Homo sapiens: one gene and its partners. The protein of the gene in region 1 purifies or fractionates together with the protein of each later gene. This does not show direct contact. Each region holds a gene or a part of one and is shown in the gene's direction. Other genes may lie near its edges. The genes, in order: GMIP, NUP35 and AAMDC.

What was found.
Region 2: the proteins of GMIP (region 1) and NUP35 purify together in Homo sapiens (affinity purification with mass spectrometry; one large-scale study listed by BioGRID and IntAct). This does not show direct contact.
Region 3: the proteins of GMIP (region 1) and AAMDC purify together in Homo sapiens (affinity purification with mass spectrometry, with the first as the bait; one large-scale study listed by BioGRID). This does not show direct contact.

What each region holds. Positions count from the first base shown.
Region 1 is NC_000019.10:19,633,545-19,637,198, reverse strand, and holds part of GMIP (GEM-interacting protein), read left to right. Parts: intron 1-169; coding exon 170-282; intron 283-402; coding exon 403-492; intron 493-1,477; coding exon 1,478-1,555; intron 1,556-1,629; coding exon 1,630-1,784; intron 1,785-1,985; coding exon 1,986-2,174; intron 2,175-2,269; coding exon 2,270-2,407; intron 2,408-2,495; coding exon 2,496-2,692; intron 2,693-3,008; coding exon 3,009-3,396; intron 3,397-3,654. UniProt on the Homo sapiens protein: Stimulates, in vitro and in vivo, the GTPase activity of RhoA.
Region 2 is NC_000002.12:183,148,312-183,151,965, forward strand, and holds part of NUP35 (nucleoporin NUP35), read left to right. Parts: intron 1-3,196; coding exon 3,197-3,338; intron 3,339-3,654. UniProt on the Homo sapiens protein: Functions as a component of the nuclear pore complex (NPC).
Region 3 is NC_000011.10:77,838,056-77,841,709, forward strand, and holds part of AAMDC (mth938 domain-containing protein), read left to right. Parts: intron 1-2,963; exon of another isoform or gene 2,964-3,130; coding exon of another isoform or gene 3,131-3,169; intron 3,170-3,654. UniProt on the Homo sapiens protein: May play a role in preadipocyte differentiation and adipogenesis.

The sequences.
Region 1 (3,654 bases):
GGGGCAGGGGCAGGAATGTGGGGCTACTGTATTTCAGGGGCCACAATGCCCTGGGTGTCAGGGTTTGCAGACCCAAGTGCTTGGAGTTGGTACCTAGACATGATGCCTGGGTGCCATCACCCCAGGCCAGTTTCCTGGGATTCAAACCTTCAAACTTCTGTCTTCTCAGCTCCCCTCTGGACATCAGAAAGAAGCTCTCTGGGCCTCTTCCTCCAAGGCTGGATGAGAATTCAGCTGAGCCAGGCCCTTGGGAGGATCCGGGCACAGGCTGGCGCTGGCAAGGTGAGTGCAATGAGGGCCAGGTGGGAGTGGTGCCAGGAGTTCGTTCCACCAACACATAGGTGGGCTGCAGGAGTGGGGTTTGTGAGCAGGGGACCATCCTTATTGACCTGTGCCACCTAGGGACTCCAGGCCCCACTCCGGGCAGCGATGTGGACAGCGTGGGTGGCGGCAGCGAGTCTCGGTCCCTGGACTCACCCACTTCCAGCCCAGGTAGGGATAGGACCTGGTCCTGACCCACACTCCACCTGTGACCATCCTCCAGCCCCTGGCCAAGCTCTGACCCTCAATCTTTAACTATCTTTGACCTCTGACCTACCCCACACCCCTGACCTATTTCCTCAACCTCTTTTTTTACCTTTTTAAAAATTATTTATTTATTTATTTGTTTGTTTATTTGAGACAGTCTCATTCTGTCGCCCAGCCTGGAGTGCAGTGGCGTGATCTCGGCTCACTGCAACCTCCACCTCCCAGATTCAAGCGATTCTCCTGTCTCAGCCTCTGGAGTAGCTGGGATTACAGGTGTGCACTACCACGCCGGCTGATTTTTGTATTTTTTAGTAGAGACGGGGTTTCACCATGTTGGCCAGGCTGATCTCGAACTCCTGACCTCAGGTGATCCACCTGCCTCGGTCTCCCAAAGTGCAGGGATTACAGGTGTGTGCCACCACGCCCGGCCTTTTCTTTTCTTTTCTTTCTTTCTTTTTTTTTTTTTTGAGACAGAGTCTTGCTCTGTTGCCCAGGCTGGAGCGCAGTGGTACGATCTTGGCTCACTGCAACCTCCGCCTCCCAGGTTCAAGCGATTCTCGTGCCTCAGCCTCCCGAGTAGCTGGGACTACAGGTGCCTGCCACCATGCCTGGTTAATGTTTGTATTTTTAGTAGAGACAAGGTTTTGCCATGTTGGCCAGGCTGGTGTCAAACTCCTTGCCTCATGTGATCCTCCTGCCTCAGCTTCCCAAAGTGCTGGGATTACAGGTGTGAGCCACTGCGCCCGGCCTATTTCCTCAACCTCTTGATCCAGCTTATGAACCACCCCCCTCAGGTTGCTGACCCAATTCTCCAACCCTTAACCACTGACCTGTCCAATCCCCCTCCTGACCTCTGACCCCTTGGGAATTAGTGGGTGGTTCTGGAAGCCCTAAAAACCAGGAGTGCCTCCCATAGCCCAGGAATCTCCCATGATTCCTCTGACCCCAGGCGCTGGCACGAGGCAGCTGGTGAAGGCTTCGTCCACAGGCACTGAGTCCTCAGATGACTTTGAGGAGCGAGACCCTGGTGAGGCTGAAGCAGGGTAGGTCAGGATGGGACAGGGCAGGGCACCAGGCACTCCTGACCCTGTCTCCCTGCAGACCTGGGAGACGGGCTGGAGAATGGGCTGGGCAGCCCCTTCGGGAAGTGGACACTGTCCAGCGCGGCTCAGACCCACCAGCTGCGGCGACTGCGGGGCCCAGCCAAGTGCCGCGAGTGCGAAGCCTTCATGGTCAGCGGGACGGAGTGTGAGGAGGTGTGGCCTGGGTTAATGACCAAATGACCTTTGCTGACCCTTGATCATCTCCCTGACCTGAGATTCCTACAGCCTTTCTGCCCCTGGGACCCACCCTAACCTGATGTCTCCCATGAGCCCCCATTCCTTGAGGATCCTTGTAACCTTCTCTTCCCCTACTGGTCCCTAATGACCTCCCTGTCCCTGTGACCTTCCCCACAGTGCTTTCTGACCTGCCACAAGCGCTGCCTGGAGACTCTCCTGATCCTCTGTGGACACAGGCGGCTCCCAGCCCGGACACCCCTTTTTGGGGTTGACTTCCTGCAGCTACCCAGGGACTTCCCGGAGGAGGTACCCTTTGTGGTCACGAAGTGCACGGCTGAGATAGAACACCGTGCCCTGGATGTGCAGGTGCTGCCCTGACCCTTCATCATCCCCAGAAGTGACCTGACCGAATCGATGGCCTATCACGAACCAGGTGTCTGTTTTTCACCCTCACCCTGCAGGGCATTTACCGGGTCAGCGGGTCCCGGGTCCGTGTGGAGCGGCTGTGCCAGGCTTTCGAGAATGGCCGAGCGTTGGTGGAGCTGTCGGGGAACTCGCCTCATGACGTCTCGAGTGTCCTCAAGCGATTTCTTCAGGAGGTTGGTGCTCAGGACACTGAGGGGGACGCGGGCAGGAGCCCTCCACAGCCCACCCACACTCGTGTTGCGCCCTCCGTTCCACCCCCAGCTCACCGAGCCCGTGATCCCCTTCCACCTCTACGACGCCTTCATCTCTCTGGCTAAGACCTTGCATGCAGACCCTGGGGACGACCCTGGGACCCCCAGCCCCAGCCCTGAGGTTATCCGCTCGCTGAAGACCCTCTTGGTACAGCTGCCTGACTCTAACTACAACACCCTGCGGCACCTGGTGGCCCATCTGTTCAGGTGTGCATGGGTCCCTGAGCCTTGAAACGCGACCCTTTTCCCTGGACATGCGACTACTAACTTCCCTGGCTGACCCCTGACACTGACCTCTGACCTTTGACCTGTGTTTTCTGAACTCTGAACCTTAATCCATGATTCATAACTTTGGGTACTGACCCCTGACCTCCAGTTCTGGATATGTGGCTGCTGGTCTCAGACGACTTACACCTGTGACATGGGCAAGTCACCTCTAGGCTGGCCTGCGTGTCCCACCCTTACCCTCAGACCAATGAGCTTGCATCCTGTACCCTGACCTTTCTCTTCACACCATCCCCAGGGTGGCTGCACGATTTATGGAAAACAAGATGTCTGCCAACAACCTGGGCATTGTGTTTGGGCCGACACTGCTGCGGCCGCCGGACGGCCCGCGGGCAGCCAGCGCCATCCCTGTCACCTGCCTGCTGGACTCTGGGCATCAGGCCCAGCTTGTGGAGTTCCTCATCGTGCACTACGAGCAGATCTTTGGGATGGATGAGCTCCCCCAGGCCACTGAGCCCCCGCCCCAAGACTCCAGCCCAGCCCCTGGGCCCCTCACAACCAGCTCCCAACCGCCACCCCCGCACCTTGACCCAGACTCCCAGCCCCCAGTCCTAGCCTCAGACCCCGGCCCAGACCCCCAGCACCACAGTACCCTGGAGCAGCATCCCACGGCCACACCTACCGAGGTAAGAACCCACTGGGCCCACAGCTATGGAGAGGGCCTTATCTCTGTTCAATTCTCTTACCTTCTCTTTCACCTTCCTTCCTTTTTAAAATTTCCTTCATTCTCTTCCTCCCTTCCTCATTTAACTTATGTTCATTCTGGAAGGAATAGTGAGGAATGAGCAGTGGGCAGTGATGATGTAACAAAAGGGGACAGCCCTGCAGAGGTACTAACATGGGTGATCATTCATTCCTCCAACAGAATATTTATTGAACATGTA
Region 2 (3,654 bases), on another chromosome or scaffold:
TTAGATACCCAGTAAGAGAAATTGTTGGATTGAATGGTAGTTCTATTTTTAGTTCTTTGAGAAATCTCCATATGGCTTTCTATAGAGGTTGTACTAATTTACGTTCTCACCAACAGTGTATGAGTTCTCTTTTCTCTGCATCCTCGCCAGCATCTGTTTGTTTTTTTGTTTAACAATAGCCATTCTGACTAGGGTAAGGTGATGATGTAGTTTTGAATTGCATTTCTCTGATGATTTGTGATGTTGAGCATTTTTTCATATACCTCTTAGCCATTTGTATGTCTTTTGAAAAATGTCTATTCATGTTCTTTGCCCACTTCTTTAACAGGTTATTTTTATCAAATATATCTATAGATATATTTCGAGATGGAGTCTTAAACTCTGTCATTTAGGTTGGAGTGCAGTGGCATGATCTTGGCTCACTGTAACCTCCACCTCCCAGGCTCCAGTGATCCTTCCATCTCAGCCTCTCAAATAGCTGGGACCACAGGCACACACCACTACGCCCAGCTAATTTTTTGTATTTTTAGTAGAGATAAGGTTTTGCCATGTTGCCCAGGCTGGTCCTGAACTCCTAACTTGGCCTCCCAAAGCGCTGGGATTACAGTCACGAGCCACAGTGCAAAGCCAAGCTTTTTATCACAGTAGCTTTTCCCCCCACCTTCTATAGATAATCTTTTTTGTTTCTTAAGAACATACTTGGAGAAATCCATGTGACTATAAACACTTTGGAATGAGTTAGGATGGTTTTCAACTCATTTGGGAATTAAGGATAAATGGCAAGTCAGGAGATACATACAATAGTTAGAATATGTTAAGTAGCCTCTAGAAAATCAATAAAAATGGAGCATGACTCATGCGCATTGACCTGTAGAACAGTGGTTCTCAAATGTCTTAGTTTTGTAGTTTTTACCTTGTTTATACTCTTAAAAATTAAAGAGCTTTTGTTTATATAGATTATAGCTATCAATATTTACTGCATTCAAAATTAAAACAAAATTTAAAATTTAAGTATTAACTCATTTAAAAATAAAGCTATTTCATATAAACATAATCTTTTTTGAAGTGAACAGTAACTATTTTCTAAAGAAAAAAAGATTTGCAGGAAGAGTGACATTGTTTTTGTTTTAAAAATCTTTTTAGTGTCTGGCTTAATAAAATACCTGTGAATTCTCATGAATCTGCTTCTCTTTTCAACCTGAGTCTGTTGAATCACATGAAGTTGCCTCTGGAAAACTCCACTGTACACTAATAAGAGACTGAGAAAAAGGCAAATGAAACTTCATGTTTTTGTGAAAATAATTTTGAGTTGGCTGATCTCATGAGAGAGTCCTGGGGGAGCCAAGAATCTCCAGACCACACTTGTAGTACTGCCACAGGAAATAAACATGTTAACTAGATTACTGCCTCAGAGCTCATGCTTTGGATTCCGATTGCCTGGATTGGAATTCCAACTAACCTTCTGGATGTTATTTAATATTATCCTGTTTCCTAATTTGTTAAATGGACTAATTGGACCTTTTGTAGGATTGTTAGAATTAAATAAAATTACACTCGTAAAGTGTAATAATCACTTAATAAAATGCTACCTTTTTTTTAATTTTTTTATTTTTTTGAGACAGAGTCTCTCTGTCACCCAGGGTGTAATGCAGTGGTGCTATCTCAGCTCACTGCAACCTCCGCCTCCCGGGTTCAAGCGATTCTCCTGCCTCAGCCTTGAGAGGAGCTGGGATTACAGGCATGCACCACCACACCTGGCTAATTTTTGTGTTTTTAGTAGAGATGGGGTTTCACCATGTTGGCCAAGCCAGTCACAAACTCCTGACGTCATGATCCGCTCGCCTTGGCCTCCCAAAGTGTTGGGATGACAGGTGTGAGCCACTGGCCTGGCCCTTAAAATGCTACCTTTTACTATCAAAGTTTTAGTCCTGTTATGTCACGCTTGCTCAGATTTTTCTGTTGGTTTTCTACCTCGCTTAGAGCTTTAGCTTTTACAGTGGCTTTATAAGGTTTTTCTTCATGATCCGGCATATTGCTGCCTCTCTGCTCGCATCTCCTTGTTCTCATCTCACATCCCCCTCACTGTGCAAACAGTGGCCTTCTTGCGTTCATCTAAGACCAATCATGTCTTTCCTCATGGCCTTTGTTTTATTATTTTCTCCACAAAATGTTCACTTCTTCAAATATTGTTTTGCTTCCCTTGTCCTTCAGGTTTTTGCTTTAATGCACCTCAGTGAAATCCTTTTTCATTTAACCCACCCACACAAATTGGCCCTGTCTCCCTTCTCTGCTTTATTTTTTTTTCTCTGTAGGATTTTTAGTTTTGTAGCACATTAAGTATTTACTTATTTGTCTCTCTTTCGCTAGAATGTAGGCTCCAATAGGGATGGATTTTTTGTTTTTATTTGTCTAATGTGTTTACTGCTATACCTTCAATACCTAGGTTGATGCTTGGTGCATATTTAAGTGCTGATAAAATATGTTTTGAATGAGTAAATCATTATTGCTACTGTGAAGATGAAAGGGAAATAGTCTTTGCTTCTCTCAAATGTATAGCCTTAATTGGACATTGCTTCTGATATAAAATGAACTTTATAAAGTGTTTAGCATGGCATGTTGGACACACAGAAGTACTCAATTGGTGGCTGTTACTGAAGAATAAGAAATAAAAGGATAAGACATTTTAGAAAGAAATGACCTGAATAAAAGAAAATTGCATTCACATTTTAAGGGGTAAGGTAGATATTGTTTAGTGCATACTGGAAAAGTAAGGTTGCAACTGTATAGCTGAGGCCAAGGCATTCGGATTTTGTTCTGTGGGTAATACATTTTTACATGTTCTTAAGGCAGAGGTGCTGTGATGAAAGTGGTAGGTTTGGAAGATGAAACCAACAGAAGTCTTTGAGGTTGCCTGGGATATCCTTCTGGTGTCAGCTTAACCAGACATGCTTAATAAAACATTTAGATAATTTATCATACATAATAAAACATTTGCAGAATTATAAACTATGCCCAATTATTACTTCCTCTAATTGTATGGTAGCATGAAATTGCTATTTGACCACAGTTGTATGTTTTGAACTGTTTATGTAATTGCCAACTTTATTAGACTTTATCATTTAAAACTAAGATTTTTGATTTAGAATCAATCGAGGTGTTTACACTGGCAACTAACTTGCTAAATATACTAATATAGGGCAAAGTATGTTTAGTCCAGCAAGTATCGGTCAGCCACGAAAGACGACATTATCTCCTGCCCAGTTGGATCCTTTTTATACTCAAGGAGATTCTTTGACTTCAGAAGATCACCTCGATGACTCTTGGGTGACTGTATTTGGGTAAGGTTTGCAGACCATTTGCCTTTTAAAAACCCCACCCTAACATTTTATAATGAATATAATCAAACATACAGTAAAATGGAAAGAAGTGCATAGCAAACACCCATATTACTACCACCTAGGTTCTATGGTTAACAGTTTGCTACATTTGCTTTGTCATTTATCCATCTATCAATTCATTCTTTTTGTTGGTACATTTCATAATAAGTTGTAGACATCAATACATATTACCCTGACACTTGAGCATGCATGTCATTAACTAGAGTTTGATATTTGTTTGTAGTTTTTTAAATCATTTGTCTGTTTATTTCTTCCC
Region 3 (3,654 bases), on another chromosome or scaffold:
GAATGAGACACTGTCTCTTTGATATTAATAATAAGTTGAACTTGCAAAAATGGGTTATTAGTTATTAATGTTAATCAGAAGTAAGACTTTCTAATCGTCTTTAGTTGGAGATTAAATATGGTTAAGGAGACACATATAGGTGCCAAATTGACAAGATGTAGACTGTGACTGTTAGTTTTATGTGTCAACGTGGTAAGGTTATAGTACGGTTATTTAATCAAATACTAATCTAAGTGTTGCTGTGAACATACCTTGTAGATATGGTTAACATCTACAGTCAGTAGACTAGTGTATATATGAGATTATATCCTTGATACACTGAGTTGGCCTCTTCCAATCAGTTTAAAGTCCAAGCAAAACTGATGTTTCCTTGAAGAAGAAATACTGCCTCAGTACCATAACAACTCTTGCCCAAGGGTGAGCAGCTTACCAGTATTATCTATACATTTTGGACTTGCCAGCCTCCAAAATTTTGTGAGCCACTTTTTTGAAACAAGTCTGTCAATATTTATAGTCATCTGCTTCTGTTTCTCTGGATAACCCTGACTGATACAAGTACCTTTTTTTTTTTTTTTTTTTGAGACAGAGTCTCGCTCTTTTGCCCAGGCCAGACTGCAGTGGCATTATCTGGGCTCACTGTAAGCTCCGCCTCCCGGGTTCACGCCATTCTCCTGCCTCAGCCTCTCGAGTAGCTGAGACTACAGGCGCCCACCACTGCGCCCAGCTATTTTTTTGTATTTTTAGTAGAGACGGAGTTTCACCGTGTTAGCCAGGATGGTCTCAATCTCCTGACCTCGTGATCCGCCCACCTGGGCCTCCCAAAGTGCTGGGATTACAGGCGTGAGCCACCGCGCCCAGCAATACAAGTACCTTTTACTTACTGTGCTTACCAGTGCTAGAATTTCCATTTTATTCCTTTTTGAAGTGTTTCCTTATTGAGATTCTGTATTTGCTGAGTCATTGTTACCATATTTTTGTTTATTTCTTTGTGCTTTATTTCCCTTATACTACTTTCTTTGAAGTCTTTGCTAAATGTCAGACTTCTGAGAATACTCAATTACTCAGATACAGTTTCTTTTTTAATTAATTAATTAATTTTTGGAGACAGAGTCTTGCTCAGTCACCCAGGCTGGAGTATAGTGGCAAGATCATTGCTCACTGCAGCCTCAAACTCATGGGCTCAAGTGATCCTCCTGCCTCAGCCTCCTGAGTAGCTAGCACTATAGGTGCAAAGCCAACACACTTGGCTTTTTTTTGTTTGTTTGTTTTTGTAGAAACCAGGTCTCCCAATAGGAATGCTTTTACACTATTGGTGGAAATGTAAATTAGTTCAACCTTTGTGGAAGACAGTGGGGCAATTCCTCAAAGACCTAGAACTAGAAATGCCATTTGACCCACCAATCCCATTACTGGGTATATACCCAGAGGAATATAAATCATTCTGTTATAAAGAGAAATGCACACATATATTCATTGCAGCACTGTTTACAATAGCGAAGACATGGAATCAACCCATATGCCCATCAGTGATAGACTGGATAAAGAAAATATGGTACCTCTACACCATGGTATACTATGCAACCATAAAGGGGAACAAGATCATGTCCTTTGCAGGGACACAGATGGAGCTGGAAGCCATTATCCTCAGCAGACTAACACAGGAACAGAAAACTGAACAGCACATGTTCTCACTTATAAGTGGGTGCTGAACAATGAGAACACATGGACACAGGGAGGGGAACAACACACACTGGGGCTTGCTGGTGGGGGTCAGGGGGAGGGAGAGCATCAGGATAAATAGCTAATCCATGTGGGGCTTAATACCTAGGTGATGGGTTGATAGGTGCAGCAAACCACCATGGCACATGTGTACCTATGTAATGAACGTGCATGTCTTACACATGTATCCTGGAACGTAAAAAAGATGTTACATGCATATAACAATTTCCAAGATATTGGAAAGCAAAAAAGCAAAATAAAGACCAGGGTTGATAGCATGTTATCATTTCTGTAATATTAGAGTATGGAGAGGGGGACAGTAAACACACACACACACACACACACAACACCCAGGGATTTGAATGATTAATGCACAATATACCCTTGAAAAGAAACATGAAAACTAGGTATCTGGGGTTCATGGGAGCAAGGAAACTTTCACTTTCTACTGTTTAGTACCTTTTGAATTAAAAGTATCTTTAAGTGGCTCACGCCTGTAATCCCAGCACTTTGGGAGGCCAAGGCAGGTGGATCACCTGAGGTCAGGAGACCAAGACCAGCCTGGCCAACATAGTGAAACCCTGTCTCCACCAAAAATACAAAAATTAGCCGGGCATGGTAGCACATGCCTGTAATCCCAGCTACTTGGGAGGCTGAGGCAGGATAATCACTTGAACCCCGGAGGTGGAGGTTGCAGTGAGCCAAGATCGCACCACTGCACTCCAGCCTGGGCAACAGAGCCAGACTCCATCTCAAAAGAAAAAAAAGTGTTTAATGTATTTCTATTAGAAAAATAAAATTCTAATAAAAACATAAAAGAAACTGGGTATCCCTATGTTACCCAGGCTGGTCTTGAAATTCTGGCCTCAAGTGAAATTCCCACCTTGGCCTCCCAATGTGCTGGGATTACAGGCATGAGCCACCACACTCAGCCCCAGGTAACAGTTTCAGTTTACTGAGTGTGGGTCATAGTTTTTGTTTATTTGCATGCCTTGTAATTTTTTGTTGAAGAGTGACATTTTAGATAACATATTGTAGGACAGTGTGGATGGCATCCAGCCTGGCGAAACAACTTTTCCCCCTGAAAGTTGTTCTTCTGTTTATTTGTGTGTGGGGGTTTAGCCATTTGCCTATACTAAATGTCTTAATCCATTTTGTGCTTAATCCATGTTGTGCTCCTATAACTGAATACCTGAAACTGGGTAATTTAAAATTTATAATGAAAATAATTTTTTTTCTCACAGTTCTGGAGGCTGGGAAGTCCAAGACCAGTTGGCTCGCATCTGGTGAGAGCCTTCTTGCTGCATCATCCTATAGTGGAAGTCATCACATGGTGGAAGCACCAAGAGAGGGCCATACTTGTCCTTTTATAATGAACCTACTACTCCTGCAATAACAGCATAATCTATTCATGAGGGTGGAACCCTCATGGCCTAATCAGCTCTTAAAGGTCCCACCTCTTAATGTTGTTATAATGGCAGTTAAATTTAAACATGAGTTTGGAAGGGTGCAGACATTCAAACCATAGCACTAAACTAAATCTATGAATTCTCCCATGCAATATGTGTCTACTTTAGTCTCTGTTCTGTTAGAGTTTTTTCCTTGATTTTATTCTTAAACCCAGTTTCCCAAGATTCTCCTTGGTGTGTATATAGCTTAGTGTTCAGCCAAACATTAATTAAACATTTGGCTCAAACACCTTGAGGCAGTAAGACTTTCTCTCTCTACTGATGGAACACTGTGTGTACAGGGGAGTGCGTTCAAAGTCCAGCTGTTGTATGTCTTCACTGGCTTTTACATTCTGCAAGGCCCTCTTGAACCTTCTTGCTTATCCACTGTGTATGTGCTGAGGATCCATTAGCCCAGAATGTTTGGGTGTCTTGGGTCTATCTTCCAAATCTTTGATGCATATCCTTGCAGCCTCTGGTCCACTTG